Linked DNA regions of Homo sapiens: region 1 is linked to region 2. Evidence: fine-mapped expression QTL. A gene starts in region 2. The other region holds a variant in brackets. All regions are shown on one strand. Distances are between the middles of the regions.

Evidence for each region.
Region 1: its variant is fine-mapped to the expression of ANAPC2 in whole blood (INTERVAL, PIP 0.98).

What each region holds. Positions count from the first base shown.
Region 1 is chr9:136,997,114-137,007,125 of GRCh38, reverse strand. No RefSeq gene overlaps it. Among named protein-coding and RNA genes, the nearest start is that of CLIC3, 5.6 kb to the right of the region's middle. RefSeq lists an enhancer at 6,841-6,960. The variant AAAAG/G (reference allele first, on the strand shown) is at 6,448.
Region 2 is chr9:137,182,949-137,192,960 of GRCh38, reverse strand. ANAPC2 (anaphase promoting complex subunit 2) reads left to right here and starts at 4,401. Exons shown (of 13, transcript NM_013366.4): 1 at 4,401-4,545; 2 at 4,858-5,480; 3 at 6,605-6,737; 4 at 7,874-8,048; 5 at 9,170-9,289; 6 at 9,719-9,836. The coding sequence starts at 4,429. It overlaps SSNA1 (SS nuclear autoantigen 1), which reads right to left and starts at 4,285. Exons shown (of 3, transcript NM_003731.3): 1 at 4,183-4,285; 2 at 3,696-3,895; 3 at 2,595-3,154. The coding sequence starts at 4,234. The coding sequence ends at 3,047. TPRN (taperin) reads left to right here. Exons shown (of 4, transcript NM_001128228.3): 2 at 270-510; 3 at 596-702; 4 at 787-1,342. The coding sequence ends at 849. RefSeq lists a silencer at 3,894-4,243 and an enhancer at 4,274-4,493.

The DNA of each region.
Region 1 (10,012 bases), 190 kb after region 2:
CTGGGTCGGTCTGGAGGAGGGAAACTGAGGCAGGGTGGTTCACCATGGTTCACTGTCCCCCTCATCCCACCCTCAGGGGTTGCTCCCGGCCCCCTTCCCCTTAGCCTTCATCTTCCCGTCCACCTGCCCTCTCTAAGCCTCCTTCACCCCTTGCTGCCCACGTGGGGCCTGCAGCAGCCTGGGCTAGGCTGTCTCCGTGTCATGGAAGGGACAGCGAGGGCTTCCAGGAAGAGGCGACCTCCAGGAGGAGACCGAAGTCTGTGAAGATTCCTTAAGGGAAGGGCATCCCAGCCAGAGGGCAGGGCACAGGCCAAGGCCCCAGGGAGGCAGGACCTGGAAGCTTTGAGGCTCATCAGCGGTGGAGCCTGGCACACTGTGGGCAGGAGATGGGGGAGGGGCATGAATGGCCCCCAGAGCTCACGCCCCGTGATCTGGGCCAAGTTCAGACTCTTGCCTTAGGCCGTTTCAAGGCTCCTCAGGAGGGTAGAGGGTGGACTCACTGAGGGCTGGTGCCACATGGGGGACAACAGGGGAGGGGCCCATGGGCTTGAGGGCACTGGGTGGGCTGGGCCAACACATCCACTTGGGTTCCTATGAGGCACTCACTGTGACCACCTGAGAGGCAGTGGGATGACCATGCTGGAGTCCCTGAGAGGCTGGGTCACTGGGGTGAAGCTGTCCTGGGCCCTGGGGGCGGTTCACTCTGGAAGAACCGAGAGGAACAGTGGCTCACTGGAGGGGCTGGTGTGGGTTTGGTGGTCGGCCAAGGGAAATGCGTGGGGGAGCCGCCAGAAGGCAGGAGGCCGCAGCAGCCTCCGTCCTGCAACTGTAGGGGCTGAATCATGGCAGAAAGAGGTCGAGAAAGGAACACGGCCCAGCCGAGGCCCAGGGAGACCCTGCGCGCAGGACCAGGCCAGGCTGGACCTGGACAGCCGCCCACAGACTGACACAGTTCACGGGGGCATCGTCCCTAGAGGTTTCATTTTCATGATGTGTAATGCAGCATTGAAAGCAAACACACCCCCCAGCATCTTCCTCAGAACATTTTCCGCCGAGCACGGTGGCTCACGCCTGTAATCCCAGCACTTCGGGAGGCCGAGGCAGGTGGATCATCTGAGGTCAGGAGTTCGAGACCAGCCTGGCCAACATGGTGAAACCCCATCTCTACTAAAACTACAAAAATTAGCTGGGTGTGGTGGTGGGCGCCTGTATTCCCAGCTGCTCGGGAGGCTGAGGCAGAAGAATCACTTGAACCTGGCAGGTAGAGGCTGCAGTGAGCCAAGATCGTGCCATTGCACTCCAGCCTGGATGACAGAGTGAGACTCTGTCTCAAAACAACAGCAAAAAGAACATTTTAAACTTTCAGGAAAGTTGCGAGAATAGCAGAGCGCACGCCGCATCTTCAGCCGATGCGCCTGTGAAATCTTGCCACACGCACCGTCGCTCTACCCACTTTTGTGCTGCCCCATGTGAAAGCAAGCAGCTGTGACCTGCCAGCCCCGGCCCTGCAGCCTCCTTCCCCCAAGAGCCGCCAGGGTAGCCCAGAGTTAACAAAGGGTACAGCAAGGCTTTTCAGGGCCCCGGTGGCCCAGGCATGCCCTTTTTTATTTTTTATTATTATTTGTTTGAGGAGACGGAGTCTCACTCTCTTGCCCAGGCTGGAGTGGGGCACAATCTCGGCTCACTGCAAGCTCCGCCTCCCGGGTTCACACCATTCTCCTGCCTCAGCCTCCTGCGTAGCTAGGACTACAGGCGCGCATCACCATGCCCGGCTGATTTTTGTGTGTGTGTGTGTGTTTTTAGTAGAGATGAGGTTTCACCATGTTGGCCAGGCTGGTCTCTAACTCCTGACCTCAGGTGATTGCCCCAGCCTCAGCCTTCCAAAGTGCTGGGATGACAGGTGTGAACCACCGCGCCTGGCCAATTTTTGTATTTTTAGTAGAGATGGGGTTTCACCATGTTGGCCAGGTTGGTCTCGTGTAGGGACCAGCCCCACAGGGTCGGTGGGTCTCTCCCCATGTGCGGTGACGAGACAGTGTAGAAATAAAGACACAAGACAAAGAGATAAAAGACAGCTGGGCCCGGGGGACCACTAACACCAATGCGTGGAGACCAGTAGTGGCCCCGAATGTCTGGCTGCACTGTTATTTATTGGATACAAGGCAGAAGGGGCAGGATAAGGAGTGTGAGCCATCTCCAATGATAGGTAAGGTCACGTGGGTCACGTGTCCACTGGACGGGGGCCCTTCCCTGCCTGGCAGCCAAGGCAGAGAGAGAGAGAAGAGACAGAGAGAAAGACAGCTTATGCCATTATTTCTGCATATCAGGGACTATTAGTATTTTCACTAATTGACTACTGCTATCTAGAAGGCAGAGCCAGGTGTACAGGATGGAACATGAAGGCGGACTAGGAGCGTGACCACTGAAGCACAGCATCACAGGAGACGGTTAGGCCTCCGGATAACTGCGGGCAGGTCTGACTGATGTCAGGCCCTCCACAAGAGGTGGAGCAGAGTCTTCTCTAAACTCCCCCGGGGACAGGGAGACTCCCTTTCCTGGTCTGCTAAGTAGCGGGTGTTGTTCCTTGACACCTTTTGCTACCGCTGGACCACGGTCCGCCTGGCAACGGGCGTCTTCCCAGACGCTGGCGTCACCGCTAGACCAAGGAGCCCTCTGGTGGCCCTGTCCGGGCATAACAGAAGGCTCGCACTCTTGTCTTCCGGTCACACCTCACTATGTCCCCTCAGCTCCTATCTCTGTATGGCCTGGTTTTTCCTAGGCTATGATTATAGAGCGAGGATTATTATAATATTGGAATAAAAAGTAATTGCTACAAACTAATGATTAATGATATTCATATATAATCATATCTAAGTTCTATATCTGGTATAACTATTCTTGTTTTATATTTTATTATACTGGAACAGCTCATGTCCTCGGTCTCTTGCCTTGGTGCCTGGGTAGCTTGCCGCCCACAGTCTCGAACTCCTGACCTCAGGTGATCACCCAGCCTTGGCCTCTCAAAGTGTTGGGATTACAGATGTGTGCCACCATGCCCAGCCAATTTTTGTATTTTTAGTAGAGATGGGGTTTCACCATGTTGGCCAGGCTGGTCTTGAACTCCTGACCTCAGGTGATCGCCTAGCCTCGGCCTCTCAAAGTGTTGAGATTGCAGGCGTGAGCCACCGTGCCTGACCAATTTTTGTATTTTTAGTAGAGATGGGGGTTTCACCATGTTGGCCAGGCTGGTCTCGAACTCCCAACCTCAGGTGATCTCCCAGCCTCGGCCTCCCAAAGTGCTGGGATGACAGATGTGAGCCACTGCACCCGGCCCTAGGCATGCTCTTTAGAGTTTTTCCAAAAAACCAGGATCAGCCAGGTGCTGTGGCTCAAGCCTGTCATCCCAGCACTTTGAGAGGCTGAGGTAGGCAGGTCACCTGAAATCAGGAGTTCAGCTTGGCCAACATGGCGAAACCCCATCTCTACTAAATATACAAAATTAGCTGGGCATTGTAGCGCCTGTAATCCCAGCTACATGGGAGACTGAGGCAGGAGAATCACTAGAATCTGGGAGGCGGAGGTTGCAGTGAGCAGCGCTCCAGCCTGGGTGACAGAGTGAGACTCCGTCTCAAAAAAAAAAAAAAAAGAAAGAAAGAAAAGGCTGGGCATGGTTGCTCACACCTGTAATCCCAGCACTTTGAGAGGCCGAGGCGGGTGGATCACTTGAGGTTGGGAGTTCAAGACCAGGCTGACCAATATGGAGAAACCCTGTCTCTACTGAAAATACAAAATTAGCCGGGTGTGGTGGCACATGCCTGTAATCCCAGCTACTCGGGAGGCTGAGGCAGGAGAATCGCTTGAACCTGGGAGGTGGAGGTTGCGGTGAGCTGAGGTTGTGCCACTGCATTCCAGCCTCAGCGACAGAGTGAGACTCTGTCTCAAACAAACAAACAAAAAAAGGAAATAAAAATCCAGGATCCAACCACGAGGCACTCCTTGTGTCTTGCTGCCTTCCCCGGGGCCCCTCTGAGCCGTCCCCAGCCTTGGCGTTCTTGCCCTTCCAGGGGGACAGGCTCCGCAGGCCCAGGCTGAGCTCTGGATGTGTCTTCATTTCCTCCTGGCTGGATGCAGGTTGGACATTTTTGGCCGGAGCAGCACTGGGACACGCTGTGTCGGTCACCTCCAGGTGTCCATCTGTCCCTCAGCAGGTGATGCTGAATGTGGCCGCCTGGTTGAGGCCCAGTTCTCCCTCCCTTAGATGTGGGAACGCAATCTGGGTGCTGCGTGGCCGCGCCCCCCGACCCCCGTCACCCAGGGCCAGCAGCTGCAAAATGGCCATTTCCTGCCTCTATTCCATTTCTGCATCTACTGGCTGGCATTTCTCTCTCACCAAGGGCCCCTCCACTTTAAAAAGTCTATCAGTACAGACTTGCAGGTTTAAAAAAATTAATGTGTTAACATGCATTACTGTCATCTTTTAATTACTTATTTTGAGACAGGGTCTTGCTCTGTCACCCAGGCTGGAGTGTGGTGGTGCAATCATAGCTCACTGCAGCCTCCAACTCCTGGGCTCAAGTGATCCTCCTGCCTCAGCCTCCTTACAGGCATGTGCCACCACACACGACTAATTTTTATTTTTATTTTTGTATAGATAGGGTCTTGCTATATTGCCCAGGCTGGTCTTCAACTCCTGAGCTCAAGGGATTCTCCCACTTCAGCCTCCCAGAGTGTTGGGATTACAGGGGTGAGCCACTGCATCTGGCTCTTTTAAAATTTTTTGATGGTGGTAAAATCTATGTAACATTTATCACGTTAACCATTCATAACGCACAATCCACTGTTGTCTTATGCTCAGATGGCCTGAGGTCCAGCCAGCGGTGCCCCTCCAGCAGGCGCCCCTCCAGCACGGCTTCTGTGTCTTCGTAACCAGCTCCTGATGTGTTTTGAGTGCGTCCCTGCCTTCCCTGCCCCACACCTGGAATCAGCCTCTCTCCAAGGAGCCTGTCTCAGTCCGACCAGGACTGCTGTGCAAAGGACCCTGGACGGGTGGCATTCATGCCTCACAGCTCTGGAGGCTCGAAGTCCGAGGTCGGGACGCCAGCATGGCTGGGTTCTGGCGAGGGCTCTTCTGGGTTGTGGACTTCCCTTGACTCCTCACCTGGCAGGAGGAGCGAGGGAGCTCTCCGGGGTCCCTTTTATGAGGGCGCTGATTCTGGTCATCTCGAGGGTGTCACCTTCATGACCTACCCACCTCCAAAAGACCCCGCTTCTTTTTTTTTTTTTTTTTTTTGAGTCTCGATCTGTCACCAGGCTGGAGTGCAGTGGCGCAATCTTGGCTCACTGCAAGCTCCGCCTCCTGGGTTCATGCCATTCTCCTGCCTCAGCCTCCTGAGTAGCTGGGACTACAGGCGCCTGACACCACGCCCGGCTAATTTTTTGTATTTTTAGTAGAGATGGGGTTTCACCATGTTAGCCAGGATGGTCTCGATCTCCTGACCTTGTGATCCGCCTGCCTCGGCCTCCCAAGGTGCTGGGATTACAGGCTTGAGCCACCGCGCCCAGCCAACCCCACTTCTTAACACCATCACCTTGCAGGAGACAGGGTTTTGTTTTGTTTTTTTTTTTTTTTTTGAGACAGAGTCTCGCTTTGTCACCCAGGCTGGAGTGCAATGGAGTGATCTCGGCTCACCGGAAACTTTGCCTCCCAGGTTCAAGCGATTCTCCTGCCTTAGCCTCCCGAGTAGCTGGGATTACAGGCATGTGCCACCACGCCCGGCTAATTTTGCATTTTTAGTAGAGACAGGGTTTCCCCATTTTGGTCTGGCTGGTCTGGAACTCCCAACCTCAGGTGATCCACTCACCTCGGCCTCCCAAAGTGCTGGGATTACAGGCGTGAGCCATGTGCCTGGCCTAGGGGCCAGGGTTTCAACACACAAATTTTGGGGAGGACACATTCAGTCCCTAGCAGAACCCTGGTTCCTTTTAGGGAAGATGGGCTTTGGGACCAGAATCTGAGCTCTGGTCTGCACACTGCTCCCGAGGTCTCGCTGCCCCCGAGGTCCCGCCGCCCCCGAGGTCCCGCCGCCCCCGAGGTCTCGCCGCCCCCGAGGTCACGCCGCCCCCGATGTCTCGCCGCCCCCGAGGTCTCACCGCTCCCGAGGTCTCACTGCTTCTAGGCTCTCTCCATGCACAGAGCAGATAAATCTCTGCACAAGTTTGCACCAATACCCCAATGCCCCCAGCCCTCCGGCCCCCCAAACAGGTGTGTGTCTCCCTTCAGAACAGAGCTGCTCAAATGTCACTGGGGTGTGGCCCTGTGCAGGCGGAGGCAGGAGGATCACTGGAGCCCAGGAGGTGGAGGCTGCAGTGAGCTATGACTGCGCCATTGCACTCCAGCCTGGGTGACAGAGTGAAACCCTGTCTCAAAAAAAAAAAAAAAAAAAAAAA[AAAAG/G]AGCCCCTTGGAAGGGGCCTACAGGGAGGGGTGTTGGGGAGGGAGAGAGTTCTAACCCACCAGTCAGTCAGTCCCAGAGCAGCAGCCTCGGGACCTCAGCTTGGGCCCCTCTAACGCTGGCTCTATGAATCAGGAGCAGGGGCTGCAGGGGACGGGAGGTTTAGGGATAACCCCGTGGCCTCGGGGACCAGGGTCTAGTTAAGGTTAGTGGCTGTGATACTGTTCTTACTTCAAAACATTATGAAATTGTGGTAGAAAATGTGGTATTACAAAAATGTGGTAGAAAATGCAAACAGTGTGGACAGACAGGAAGCAAAACTGAAAGCCTGTTTCTGCCTGTCAGGGGTCATCCCACAGACAGCTCCTTGCGTCTTTTTTCAGCTCTGTTCAAGTAGAGACTCAGAATGACAGATCCTAATGCTGATTTTCTTCCATTTCCTGGCTTCTCCCTGCTTTACTTATTAGCTTGCTGGCGCTGCCATGCAAAGGACCACAAAGTGAGGGGTTTAAAACAACAGAAACTGACTTTGGGAGGCCGAGGTGGGCGGATCACTTGAGGTCAGGAGTTTGAGACCAGCCTGACCAACATGGTGAAACCCCGTCTCTACTAAAAATACAAAAATTAGCCAGGCGTGGTGGTGGGCGCCTGTAATCCCAGCTACTCGGGAGGCTGGGGCAGGAGAATCGCTTCAGCCGGTGAGGCGCGGGTTGCAATGAGCCGAGATTGAGCCATTGCACTCCAGCCTGGGTGACAGTGAGACTCCATCTTAAAACAACAACACCGCGGGGCGCGGGAGCTCACGCCTGTAATCCCAGCACTTTGGGAGGCCGAGGCGAGCGGATCACGAGGTCAGGAGATCGAGACCATCCTGGCTAACGCAGTGAAACCCCGTCTCTACTAAAAATACAAAAATTAGCCAGGTGTGGTAGCGGGCGCCTGTAGTCCCAGCTACTTGGGAGGCTGAGACAGGAGAATGGCGTGAACCTGGGGAGGCAGAACTTGCAGTGAGCCGAGATTGTGCCACTGCACTCCAGCCTGGGCGACAGAGCAAGACTGCATCTCATTAAAAAAAAAAAACAAAAAAAACAGAAGCTCACTGCCTAGCAGTCTGGAGGTCAGACATAGCACCTAGGCTTGGGCAGGGCTGCTTCCTCCCAAGGGCCTTGGAGAGCATCCGCTTGGCTCCCAGGCTTACAGATGTGCCACCCTGATTTCTGCCTGCGGCCCTCCCTGTGCATCTGTGTCCAAACTCGCCTTTCTATACTGACATCAGTCATATTGGATCAGGGCACATCCTACTCACCACATTTTAACTTGATAACTTCTATAAAGACCCTATTTCAGCCGGGTGCGGTGGCTCACACCTGTATTCCCAGCATTTTGGGAGGCCAAGGTGGGTAGATCTTCTGAGGTCAGGAGTTCGAGACCAGCCTGATCAACATGGTGAAACCCTGTCTCTACTACAAATACAAGGAAAAAAAAAAAAAGCTCAGCGTGGTGACGTGTACCTGTAATCCCAGCTACTCCAGAGGCTGAGAAAGTAGAATTGCTTGAACCCAGGAGGCAGAAGTTGCAGTGAGCCGAGATTGCACCACTGCATTCCAGCCTGGGCAACAGAGCAAGACTCTGTCTCAAAAAAAATGTTAAAAAGCCCCTGTTTCCACATAAGGTCACATTCTTTATTTTTTTTCCAAGATGGAGTCTTGCTCTGTTGCCCAGGCTGGAATGCAGTGGCACTATCTCTGCTCACTGCAACTCTGTCTCCCGGGTTCAAGCACTTCTCCTGCCTCAGCTTCCCGAGTAGCTGGGATTACAGGTGCCTGCCACTATGCCTGGCTAATTTTTGTATTTTTAGTAGAGACGGGGTTTCACCATGTTGGTCAGGCTGGTCTCAAACTCCTGACCTCAGGTGATCCACCCCCCTCGGCCTCCCAGACTGCTGGGATTACAGGCATGAGTCACCGTGCCCGGCCCATATAAGGTCACATTCTGAGGCACTAGGGGTTAGGACTCCAGCCTAAGAATTTAAATTTAAGGGGACACAAGCCACGCCATTTACCTAATCTCAGGCCCTCCCTGCAGTGGGCATGCATGGAGTCACCTTTTCCGTCCTTCTCCCTGGACACAACTGGAGTCTCCCATAGACAGGGTGGTGGCCGTGCCACGGAGCCACGCCACGCCACGCCACGCCACGCAGTGGGGCAGCCAGCACTCACTTGCCCTTCACAGGGAAACCGGCCGGGTGTGGCAGCTCGCGCCTGTAGTTCCAGCACTGTGGGAGACCAAGGCAGGTGGGTCACTTGAGCCCATGAGGTGGAGACCAGCCTGGGCAACATGGCAGGACCCTGTTTCTAGTAAATAAATGAATTGATTAAACCATAAAAAAAAAAGGAAGCCACCGGGCTGATTCCCAGGTGGCGAGGGCACAGGGGGGTGTTGGATGGCCACTGCCGCTCCACAGTCCACAGCCCACGCCCACAGAACGCAGTGGGGCCGCTGCAGCGGTGAACCGAGTCTTGTTGGTTTGTTTCTTGAGACGGGCGTGAGGTGAATGGTCTTCCTGTGTCTTGTTTTCTTTTTCCTTCTGAGCCACCGGTTCACGGCCTCTGTCCGTGCCGTCATTTTTCCTGTGGGTTTGTGAGGGTGCGTCTGTCGGTGTTAAAGACACAGGATGCCGGGGCAGCAGAGGGGGCTGGGGGCCTGGGGCTTCTCTGTGGTTGGCCATTTGCCTGCCAGGGATGTGGGAAACCAGCAAGCGGAGCTATAACCACAGTGTCCAGAAAGAGCTGAAATACTAGGGCTTGGAATCGAGGTGGAGGCCGGATGGAGGGAAATTGAGGTTCAGGACACCAAAGGATGGGGCAGCCACATGGTATTTCCAAGGCTCTGTGTCCAGGAGCCCCGACTGGCGTGGTATCCAGAGAAGCATCAGGCTGGGCTGACTGGGGCAGCACTGGAGTGTGTTCCACCGGGGACGGATGAGGGGCCCGTACCAAGGCCCTGGGGAGAAGGTGAGCAGGAGAGCAGTGCCACCTCAGCTGCCCTGTCCAGGCTGGTGAGGCACCACACCGCCTGGGGGAGGTGTGGCCAGGCCAATCCTGTGGGCACCCCAGGTCTCTGGGTGGAATCTCCCCTCGGTGTACCTCCCTGGGGCTGCACCCTAAAGCGTCAGGGCCAGGTGGGAGGAAGGCACAGTTGGCGACCCCAAAGGGCCAGACTGAACTGTGGGTTCCAATCACGCCAGGAGGCTCAGCGCAGGCTCACACCTGTGGACCACCACCCTCCCCTGGCCTCTTTCTTCCAGCCACGCAGGCTGTGGCTTCTAACCCCTCTCCTGCTGCTTCTTTTTAAAGGTTAAGGGGTTGGGGGTAAGAAACCTGCGCTGAGCGCCAGTGGGAGGGATGGGAGGTGGGGTGGAGACCTGCACTGCCGGCCAAACACCAAAGCCAGGCTGGCCTCCCCGCCCTGTTGCGGGCAGGTCTGGAATTTGAGCCCTGCCCTGAGCGGGGAGGGCCCTGCCTGACTGCTCCGTAGCTGGGAAGGGGCGGCTCCCCCAGGTG
Region 2 (10,012 bases):
GGACCCAGAGGCTTTGGGCTCCTGGTCCTGGTCAGCGTTTGGTCCCTGGCTGGAATGGGGAGGGGAGGTTGACCCCCAGGGTGGAGGGATGGACGCCTGCAGGGTCCAGCTGGAGAGCTCTGTGCCCCCTCCTGGAGCCCCCGGAACGGTTGATGGTGTGTCTGGCGCCCCACTTGGGTCAGCCTCATCCTGAGGGCTGAACCTGAGCCCCTGGCATCACTGTGCCCATGTGGGCCCTCAGCCCTCGTTCACGTGACTCTCACTCCCAGATGAAGATCTCCTTCAACGACAAAAGCCTGCAGACCACATTTGAGTACCCTTCCGAGAGCTCCCTAGAGCAGGAGGAAGAGGTGGACCAGCAGGAGGAGGAGGAGGAGGAGGAGGAGGAAGAGGAAGAGGAGGAAGAGGGATCCGGCTCAGAGGAGAAGCCCTTTGCACTCTTCCTGCCCCGGGCCACGTTTGTGAGCAGCGTGAGACCCGAGAGCTCTCGGCTGCCAGAGGGTAGCTCAGGTGAGTGCCCACCTGGGGGACAGGCAGCCTGGGAGGGGTGGAGCCTGGTCTGTGTCCACGTCTGCATGTGCACCTCCATTCACAGGCCTGTCCAGCTACACCCCGAAGCACTCTGTGGCCTTCAGCAAGTGGCAGGAGCAGGCGCTGGAGCAGGCCCCGAGGGAGGCAGAGCCCCCGCCCGTGGAGGCCATGGTGAGATGCGGGGGAGTGGAGCGCTGGGGGGAGTCTGACACCCGGGCGAGCCCATGTGTCCACATTCTGTCCTCTCACTTTCAGCTCACACCCGCCAGTCAGAATGACCTCTCGGACTTCCGCAGCGAGCCAGCCCTGTATTTCTGAGCCCAGCACTGCCAGGACCAAGGCTGAGCCCAGCTGTGGGAGTCCCGGAAGCTGGGCAGTAGCCAGGGACTACTGCACCCGCTTCTGCCTTGTTTGGCCTCACTGTATCCCACCCACCCCTCCTGGCCCTGGAAGCAGCTAGGGTGCCTCCTGCCATCGGGGCCAGGTCTGGGTCTCACTCCCCGGCCCTGATTTGGGAGGGTCCAAGGGGGAAGTGGGGTGGGGAACTGCCTGTGGGTGAGTGCCAGGGGCCTGCTGGGTGGTGGCCATCTGCGACCCGGCAGGGGGCTGTGCAGATTCTGCACCTGGCCATTCCCTGTCCTGTCTCCTCAGCCTGCCTCACAGTGGCCATGGGGTGTCGGGGTGAAGGGCTGTCCCAGCTACTTGTCCTCTGCAGGACCCTAAGCCCCTGCCCGCAGCCCACATGCCCTCTGTGATGAGTGGCGTCTTTCCTGCCTCTGATGATGGACTCAATAAACAGCACTGGACAAGGCTGCTGGTGTCCCCACTGCGTGGTCCTTGGCTGAGAAGGGAGCAGGGGGAGGTCTCTGCAGGAAGAGGCCACATGGGGTCCAGTGGGCCCCAGTTTGCACGTCTATGCCAGGGTGTGTGGGAGGTGACCCCGATCTGGTACCCCCACTCCTTGATGTCCCAGTGGCCAAGGCTCTGACCTCCCAACTTCCATGGCCTGTTAACCTGTTGCCCCTCCACCCCAGCCTCCCAGAGCTGGCACTGTGGGAGGTAGGATGACAGGCCTGCTGTCAGGGGCCTAGACTTCAGGTGGGAGGGTGAGAGTGTTGCAGCTGTTGGGCCTGAAGTGGCTTCTCTGAGGGGCCCAGAGCCTGGGGAGGGACCAAGGGAAGGGCAGCATGAGGGCAGCACAGGGGACGGTGTCTTCTGCTGGGCTTGGCGTGCCCCCCGACCCACAGGATGAGGCAGGCCGGGAGCAGCGCCTGCCTCAGACGGCCAGAGCTGGGGCTGTTTACAGCCCATGGAACCCAAGCACCATTTCCTCCCTGGAGGATCAAACCTAAGAGCAAAGAGATAAAGAGATGCTGTCTGGCCAAACTCCGGCGGAAGGAGAGTTTGGTGTATTTCCCTGGTCGGGTTAGGCCCAGCTCTTTTCTGGACCCTCTGGATCAACACATGCCTCCCAAATCGGCCCAGTCCTCGGGCCATGCTTGGTTGCTGCAGGGACAAAACAGAGGCCCCAGGGCACATGGAAGGATGGAAGTGGCCAGTGCTTGGTGTGCGGCCAGGGAAAGGTGGGCAGCAGGGCCTGGTGGCAGCAGTGGTGTCATCAGGCCAAGCAAAACTTGCAACTGAGGAACCGACGGGGGTGGGGGGTGTGAACTCCCCCCAGTCCTTGCTGAGAGGGACCTGAATCTGAGGCAGCTGCTGGATATGCTTGGCATCCCCAGCTGTCTCTCTGGGCTGGGTCCTATGCTGGCCACCAGGGTGTGGCAGAGAACAGGACGAGCAAGCAGAGCTCCTGAGAGGAGGGTGAGCCGTGGGCCAGTCAGGGGAAGAGGACCGGCGGCCCTGCTGGGGAGGGCTCAGGGTGGGGCTGGCCTGGGGAGGGTGGGCACCCTCAGCGGTGTCCCTGAGGCTAGTGGGGCAGTCACAGGGAGGCCACTCCAGACCCTCCTCCCTCCTCTCCCAAGGGGGAGCCTCAGGCTCTGGCTCTGCAGGTGTCTGGCAGCCCCATGCTGTTGATACGGGCAAGCAGCAGGCTGGCACGGATCTTTACAAAGATAATCTTTATTCATAATCACAGGCCACAGGGGTGAGACCTGAGGTTTGGGTTCTGTGGTGAAGGAGAACCCCTGTCCTCCTGTCCCTTGCCCTGGGCCTCTGCTGGCTGAGGAGGGACAAGGTGAGGGGGCCCCCATGGTGCTCAGACAACCAGAGCCTCCCTGGCAGGGCAGGAGTGTGGGTGCCACAGAGACAAGCCCCTTGCAGAGCTGACCTGGAGCCCACCATCCCCATAGCCTGTGTGAGCATGAAGCGAGGACCCCCGGGTGGGCTGTGCCCTGGGCTTGTCACTGATGCCAGTGGAGGCTGGCACCTGCCCCTCTCGGCACCTGAGACAGTGAGGGAAGGTAGCTGCTGCCGTGAAGAACAAAGATGCTCTGAGCACACACTTGCTGGGGCTGAGCTGAGGGGCACACGGAGGCAGGCCCTGCCCGTGGTCTGGTCAGCTGTCCCTGCCGCCGCTACTTTTCTGGTCTGGGGCTGTAGCCTTGGTCAGGTTCCCAGCTTCCCTCTTGAGAACGCTGAGCAAAGTCTGGGAGCTCTCCAGGATCTGGGGCCAGAGAAGTGAGAAGGTTGTTAATGTTCACCTGTTGGTAAGGTCCTAAGCCCCAGCTGTCCTCACACTCAGGTGCTGGGACCTGGCTGGGGGTGCTGTAGCCAAGGGATCCTGTGTGGGGGAAGGCGGAAGCCCAAGGGGACTGGCAGACGGGGTGGCAGGGCCCTCTTCCCTCCGGAATCTGACCCAAAACACTTCCTCTCCACCCTCAAAGCCAGGCTGGGTTAGCACTGGCCCGTGCTGGGTGCTCTGCCCAAGACCTGGCTCTTCACACTGAGCAGAAATAACCACATGGCTAGCGAGAACCGGATAAAGACCAGGACCCAGGATGCCCCAGGCCCCACAGACAGCCCCACAGTCACTCCCACAGCAGCCTGGGTTCCTCAATGGGCCTGGCCACGCTGCCCCTGCCCGAAATGCCAGCGAGGCACAGACTGCCCACAGCCGGGAGCCCCAGCCGGTCCTGACGCCTTGCCGTGGCAACACCCCTGCCGTGCCTATCCCCTGATGCTCGGCCTGGCCTCCCGAGCTCCACCTTGAGGTAGGCGGCCTCCGTCTCCGCGATGGTCCGGTCGAACTCGTTGCGAGAGGCAATCTTGCGTGCCAGGTTCTCGTTGACGCGGGCCAGCTTCTCTGTCAGCTGCCTCACCTCATTCTGCAGCCGCTGCTTCTCGTCCTCCTCCTCCTGGATCTGCCGGCACAGCTCCTCCCGCTTCTGGCACAGCTCCTCTATGCCTGGGGGCCGGGAGGGGCGGCGCTGTGGGCCCAGGGCAGGAGCGCGGCGGCGGAGGGCGGGCCTCCTTCCACCCGAGGAAGCCAGAGTCAGGCACCACCCCCGAGCGCCCGGCGCGGGGCCTGCGAGCCAGCGAGGGCTCGGGCCACGGACACCCGGCCTCCGGCACGGAGGGCTCTGCTCAGCCGCGCGATGCCCGCAGCGAGGCGGGTCCAGGGGCACCCCGCTGCGAGCCGGGAACCCGGCCCTGCGGCCCTCCCGACCTCCCCGTCCCGGCTGCGCCGCTCACACTTGACCAGCTCGTTGTTGTAGTTCTGCAGCGCCGCGCCCTGCTGGGTCATGGTCAACGCCGCCCGGGGCCCCACCACCCCAACCGCCGCGGAAGCAGCGCTGTCCGCGCCTGCGCACGACTCCCCCACGGCGCGCCGAACTAGCGCGTCATCGCTGAGCGCCTTGTGCGCGTCATGGCTGCGCGTGCAGACGTGCGTCATCGCCGCGCGCCGCGCCGAGCGAATCTCGGAGTCGGTGGGTGCAGATGGCGGCGGCAGTTGTGGTGGCGGAGGGGGACAGCGACTCCCGGCCCGGACAGGAGTTGTTAGTGGCCTGGAACACCGTGAGCACCGGCCTGGTGCCGCCGGCTGCGCTGGGGCTGGTGAGGCCTGGGAAGAGAGGGGCGGCCCCGCGCGGAGTTTCCGGGACCGTACGCGCTTTGGGGCCGCTACCCTCGGGTTCATACGGCTCTGTCCATCATCCGCCTCTGTCCTGTCCTGCCATTTTCCACCACCTTTCCGTTTCGTTTCGTTCAGCTCCGCTGACAGCCCTTCCATAGCTTCGGCCCAACGTCCGGGCAGCACGGACAGGGGGCAGCGGAGTTTTTGCAGCCTCCCCCTCAGCTTCTTCCCTTCCCCGCCTCTCCCCACCTCTATGTTGTGTTCCCCTCGCCTCACGGTTTTCTGCACCCCAGGTGTCTTCCCGGACCAGCGGTGCAGTCCCGCCAAAGGAAGAGGAGCTCCGGGCGGCGGTGGAGGTTCTGAGGGGCCACGGGCTACACTCGGTCCTGGAGGAGTGGTTCGTGGAGGTGCTGCAGAACGATCTGCAGGCCAACATCTCCCCTGAGTTCTGGAATGCCATCTCCCAATGCGAGAACTCTGCGGATGAGCCCCAGTGCCTTTTGCTACTCCTTGACGCTTTTGGCCTGCTGGAGAGCCGCCTGGATCCCTACCTGCGTAGCCTAGAGCTGCTGGAGAAATGGACTCGCCTGGGCTTGCTGATGGGCACTGGTGCTCAGGGGCTGCGAGAAGAAGTCCACACTATGTTGCGCGGAGTCTTGTTCTTTAGCACCCCCAGAACCTTCCAAGAGATGATCCAGCGTCTGTATGGGTGCTTCTTGAGAGTCTATATGCAGAGTAAGAGGAAGGGGGAAGGGGGCACAGACCCGGAACTGGAAGGGGAGCTGGACAGCCGGTATGCCCGTCGCCGGTACTACCGGCTCCTGCAGAGCCCGCTGTGTGCAGGGTGCAGCAGTGACAAGCAACAGTGCTGGTGTCGCCAGGCTCTGGAGCAGTTCCATCAGCTCAGCCAGGTCTTGTGAGTAGTCTGTCCCGATGGCCATGCCCTTGCTCCTTCTGGTTCCCCGCTGCTCCCCTGGGTCCAGCTGGCCTCAGCAGAAAGCTGGTGAGCCGTCCTGATAACCAGGAACATGACAGAGAGAGAGTCCCAGGGATTCCTGTGCAGCGTGTCCTGGACACAGGTGTCTCTCTTCTGTCACTCACCTTCAGTCCCACAGATTCATGCCTTGACCCTGGTAAGGCCCTATGTGGCTTGTGTCTGCAGCAGCAAATTTCTTAGCAACTCCAAACTTCCTGGACTCTGCAGAATTCCACTGTGCCTTTTGTCGATCCTGGGGAGGAATGATTCTCACCCTCGTCGACATTCCTTGCCCTGTAATTGTGAACAGAAGCTTGCTGCTGCTTCTCTCCAGGAAGATCAGGTCACTGTGAGGGCAAGCAGTCTCTTGTTAGTTTGGAGAGGAGAGGGGTTTGTTGTGAGAGACAGGTCCTGTTGTAGTTCTCTAGCAATTGTCATACCCTTGGCCATTTGTGGTGGTTTTGTCACATTGAACGGGGGTGTAGCCATGCAGCTACTTGAGAGGTCTTAGGTGGACTAAAGGTGGACTAAAGGAGTGCTCCTTTTGCTGGCAGGGGTCAGGGAGACCGTGAAGGGCTTCTGTTGGGCTCATCCCTGCAAAAGTTACACGGCAACTTTTCTCATCCTCCTCTTGAGTCCTTTTGTCACTGTAGACCAGAGACTGCACTGAAAGGCACAAACAGTGGCATCTGTACCTCTGCGGCCAGGGTAGCAGTGCAGTTGGTTGTCGTTTCAGAGTTGATCCTAGGAGATAAGGCTAGGGCCCCCGACAGCCACACCTGCTGCCACTGATCACATGGGGAAGGCCAGTGTCCCTACCTGGATAGAGGCCAGCTGGGCGGGGACAGCAGAGCCTGGGAGTGCTCTGTGCTCCCAGTGGCTTCTTGAAGCCTTTGGTACAACCGCCCCCCACAGCTGAGGATTGTGGGGAGGTGTGTGCTGGGTGTGTGTGTGTGTGTGTGCTGCATGCACTCTACAGGCAGGGCAGTCCTGGCATGGGGCTGTTCTGGGCTAGAGGGGCCGGTGTGTGCTCTGGGTGCCCCATGGCCAGGGCTCTCCTCTAGACACAGGCTCAGTCTGCTGGAGCGGGTCAGTGCCGAGGCTGTGACCACCACCCTGCACCAGGTGACCCGGGAGAGGATGGAGGACCGTTGCCGGGGCGAGTACGAGCGCTCCTTCCTGCGTGAGTTCCACAAGGTGAGGACCCCTCCCTTGGGCTGTGCCCCGCTGGAGACAGGGGAGTAGGTTTCTGGCAAACCTGACACCTGGCTTCAGAAGCATCCAGAGCACGGAGGCCTGGGTGGGCCCAGACCGGGTGGTGGCTGGAGCTGTCTTGATGTGGGGTAGAGACCAGTACTTCTGGGCCCTGGTGATAGCGAGGACGCATCTGAGGTGCGCTCTTCGGATCTGCGCAGAATCCCATGGCTGCAGGCGGTATCGGGCCAGGATCCCGAGGGGGCTACCTCAGGCAGGTGTGGCGAAGCTGGGCCCACCAGAGGAGCCACTGAATGGATCCCCTTCTCCTGTTTGCTGCCCTACTTGAGTGTGGACTCGCTTGGCCGGTCCCTAATGGACTGACCTACAGCCAGCCTGCACCACAGCGGGGAGCGAGACACCCTCACATGGGGCCTCCAGGCACCTGTGCTGTTGGGGTGTGGTCTGGGGCTCTGCTCTGGGCTCCCGGAGCCATAGGGGAGCTGGGCCCAGCCATGTGGGTCCCCCCATCCTGTTCCCATGTGTCACCTGTCCTTTCCTCAGTGTTTCAGAGTCCCCCTACTGAGGTGCAGATTGGCTGTGATGTTGGGTTTTCAAAGAGGGAGGGTGTCCCCAAAGCGGTGGGCAAGAGTGGGTAGTAGGGTGGAGAGGGTGAACATCCGTGCGGTCTTGCCACTGGGTAGCAGGTCTGTGGGGCATGAGCACGCCTGGGCCCCGCGGCGGAATTGCCACCTAGAGGTTTGTGCTCGCCTGGGCCCCCCGGCTGGTCTCAAGGGCGTGTTTATCCATTTAAGTGGGGGCAAGTGTGCCCACCAGGCACAGCGCACAGGTCGTGTGTGTCTGTCATGTCTCACGCTAGGGTTGCTGCTGCCAGTGATAAGTGTGGGCACTGGCGCGTGTGAGAGGCACGAAGACTGCAGGGGGGCCGGGACGTCGCCTTTTGGGCCATCACCCACCCTGCAGGTTTTGATGTGCTCCAGCCTCCAGACGCAGGTGGCCTTCGGGCTCCCCTCGGTCCCGGCCGACAGGGTGGGTGGCCGTGAGGCTCCTCCCAGCCTCTGAGTCAGCCCGGGGCTCACCATGCCTCCCTGCAGCTCACACTAGCGTTCTCCTGACAGTGGATCGAGCGGGTGGTCGGCTGGCTCGGCAAGGTGTTCCTGCAGGACGGCCCCGCCAGGCCCGCATCTCCCGAGGCCGGCAACACCCTGCGCCGCTGGCGCTGCCACGTGCAAAGGTTCTTCTACCGCATCTACGCCAGCCTGCGCATCGAGGAGCTCTTCAGCATCGTCCGAGGTGGTCCTGCCCCGGCCCTGGGGTCCGCTCTCCCGTCTGGGGAGTCTTCCCAGGGCCTTCCCCGTGTCTCCTCTGTGTCTGCATCTGGGCTCCCTGTGCCTTCACCGTGTCTGCTCTGTGTCTGCGTCTGGGGCTCCCAGGGCCTTTGCCGTGTCTGCTCTGTGTCTGCGTCTGGGCTCCCTGTGTCTGCGTCTTGGGCTCCCTGTGCCTTCGCCGTGTCTGCTCTGTGTCTGCGTCTGGGCTCCCTGTGTCTGCGTCTGGGCTCCCTGTGCCTTCACCGTGTCTGCTCTGTCTGCGTCTGGGGCTCCCAGGGCCTTCGCCGTGTCTGCTCTGTCTGCGTCTGGGCTCCCTGTGTCTGCGTCTGGGGCTCCCAGGGCCTTCGCTGTGTCTGCTCTGTGTCTGCATCTGGGCTCCCTGTGCCTTCGCCGTGTCTGCTCTGTGTCTGCGTCTTGGGCTCCCTGTGCCTTCACCGTGTCTGCTCTGTGTCTGCGTCTGGGCTCCCTGTGTCTGCGTCTGGGCTCCCCGTGCCTTCACCGTGTCTGCTCTTTGTCTGCATCTGGGGCTCCCAGGGCCTTCGTCGTGTCTGCTCTGTGTCTGTGTCTGGGCTCCTTGTGTCTGCGTCTGGGCTCCCTGTGCCTTCGCCGTGTCTGCTCTGTGTCTGCATCTGGGGCTCCCAGGGCCTTCGCCATGTCGGCTCTGTGTCTGCATCTGGGCTCCCTGTGTCCACGTCTGGGGCTCCCTGTGCCTTCGCTGTCGCTCTTGCAGGGGGGTGCACCGGGCAGTGCTGGGACTGTCCCCACTGCGGCGTCCCCCGTGCCTGGATCAGGGCAGGTGTGGCAGATGCTGGACAGTGCTTCTGGGTGTCCACTGCTGTGCTGCCTTGGCCTTGGCTCCTGCTGGGGACTGGCCCCTGGGTGTTGCTCTGTCCACCCTGTGGCATTGTGGTCAAATGCATCAGCACGCCAGAGTGTCGGGGGGATGTCTGGTGCCTAGCAGGTGGTCTCATCATCGTCCTGGGGCTGGCAAGCACGTGTCCTTTCCCACACCGCACACACTCTGCACCAGCCTGCACGTGCGCACGCATCCATGTCTGTCCCTGAGGGATGTTCTTCTTCTTGTAGACTTCCCAGACTCCCGGCCAGCCATCGAGGACCTCAAGTACTGCCTGGAGAGGACGGACCAGAGGCAGCAGCTGCTCGTGTCCCTCAAGGCTGCCCTGGAGACTCGGCTCCTGCATCCAGGTGCTGTGTGCTGCCCGGCCACCCAGCACTCTGGGCTTAGACACTCACCAGGGGACCCATGTCCAGGGAGCCTGGGGCCTAGTCTGCCAGCCCTGGACTTGTAGGTCTAAGGAAGAAATGGGTTGAGAAGCAATTGGTGAGGTCCTTAGGGGATCTGAGGTGCCCGTCAGCTTGCTTGTTTCTTCTTTGGAGGGAGTCAGGACTGACCGGTAGGTCTGAGGTGATGAGACTTAGTTCTCTCAGAACAGACCTCCCTGCAGGGCGGGACCTGTGAACAGGTAGAGGTGGGGATGGGGGGACAAGGGAACGAGGCTGCAGTGGGGACCTGTAGACCACCTACCGGCATGGCCAGCTGTCTACTCGGGTGTTGCCCCTGGGAGGCTGTGGTCCCGGGCACTGCATGACTGCTGGCTTCTGCCCTGGCTGTAGGCGTCAACACGTGTGACATCATCACCCTCTATATCTCTGCCATCAAGGCGCTGCGCGTGCTGGACCCTTCCATGGTCATCCTGGAGGTGGCCTGTGAGCCTATCCGCCGCTACCTGAGGTGAGGGCTGCAGCTGGCCCAGGAGCCACTGGGACCCTGGGCATCCTGCTGAGCTCCTCGTGGTCCTGGGGGGCAGCCGGAGGGTGTGTTCGGCCGTCAGGACACAAGGTCTCCCCCGGCTGGGCTGAGTGCACGGGATCAGGCCCGAGGCTCTTTCCTTTCCTCTTGCCCGTGCC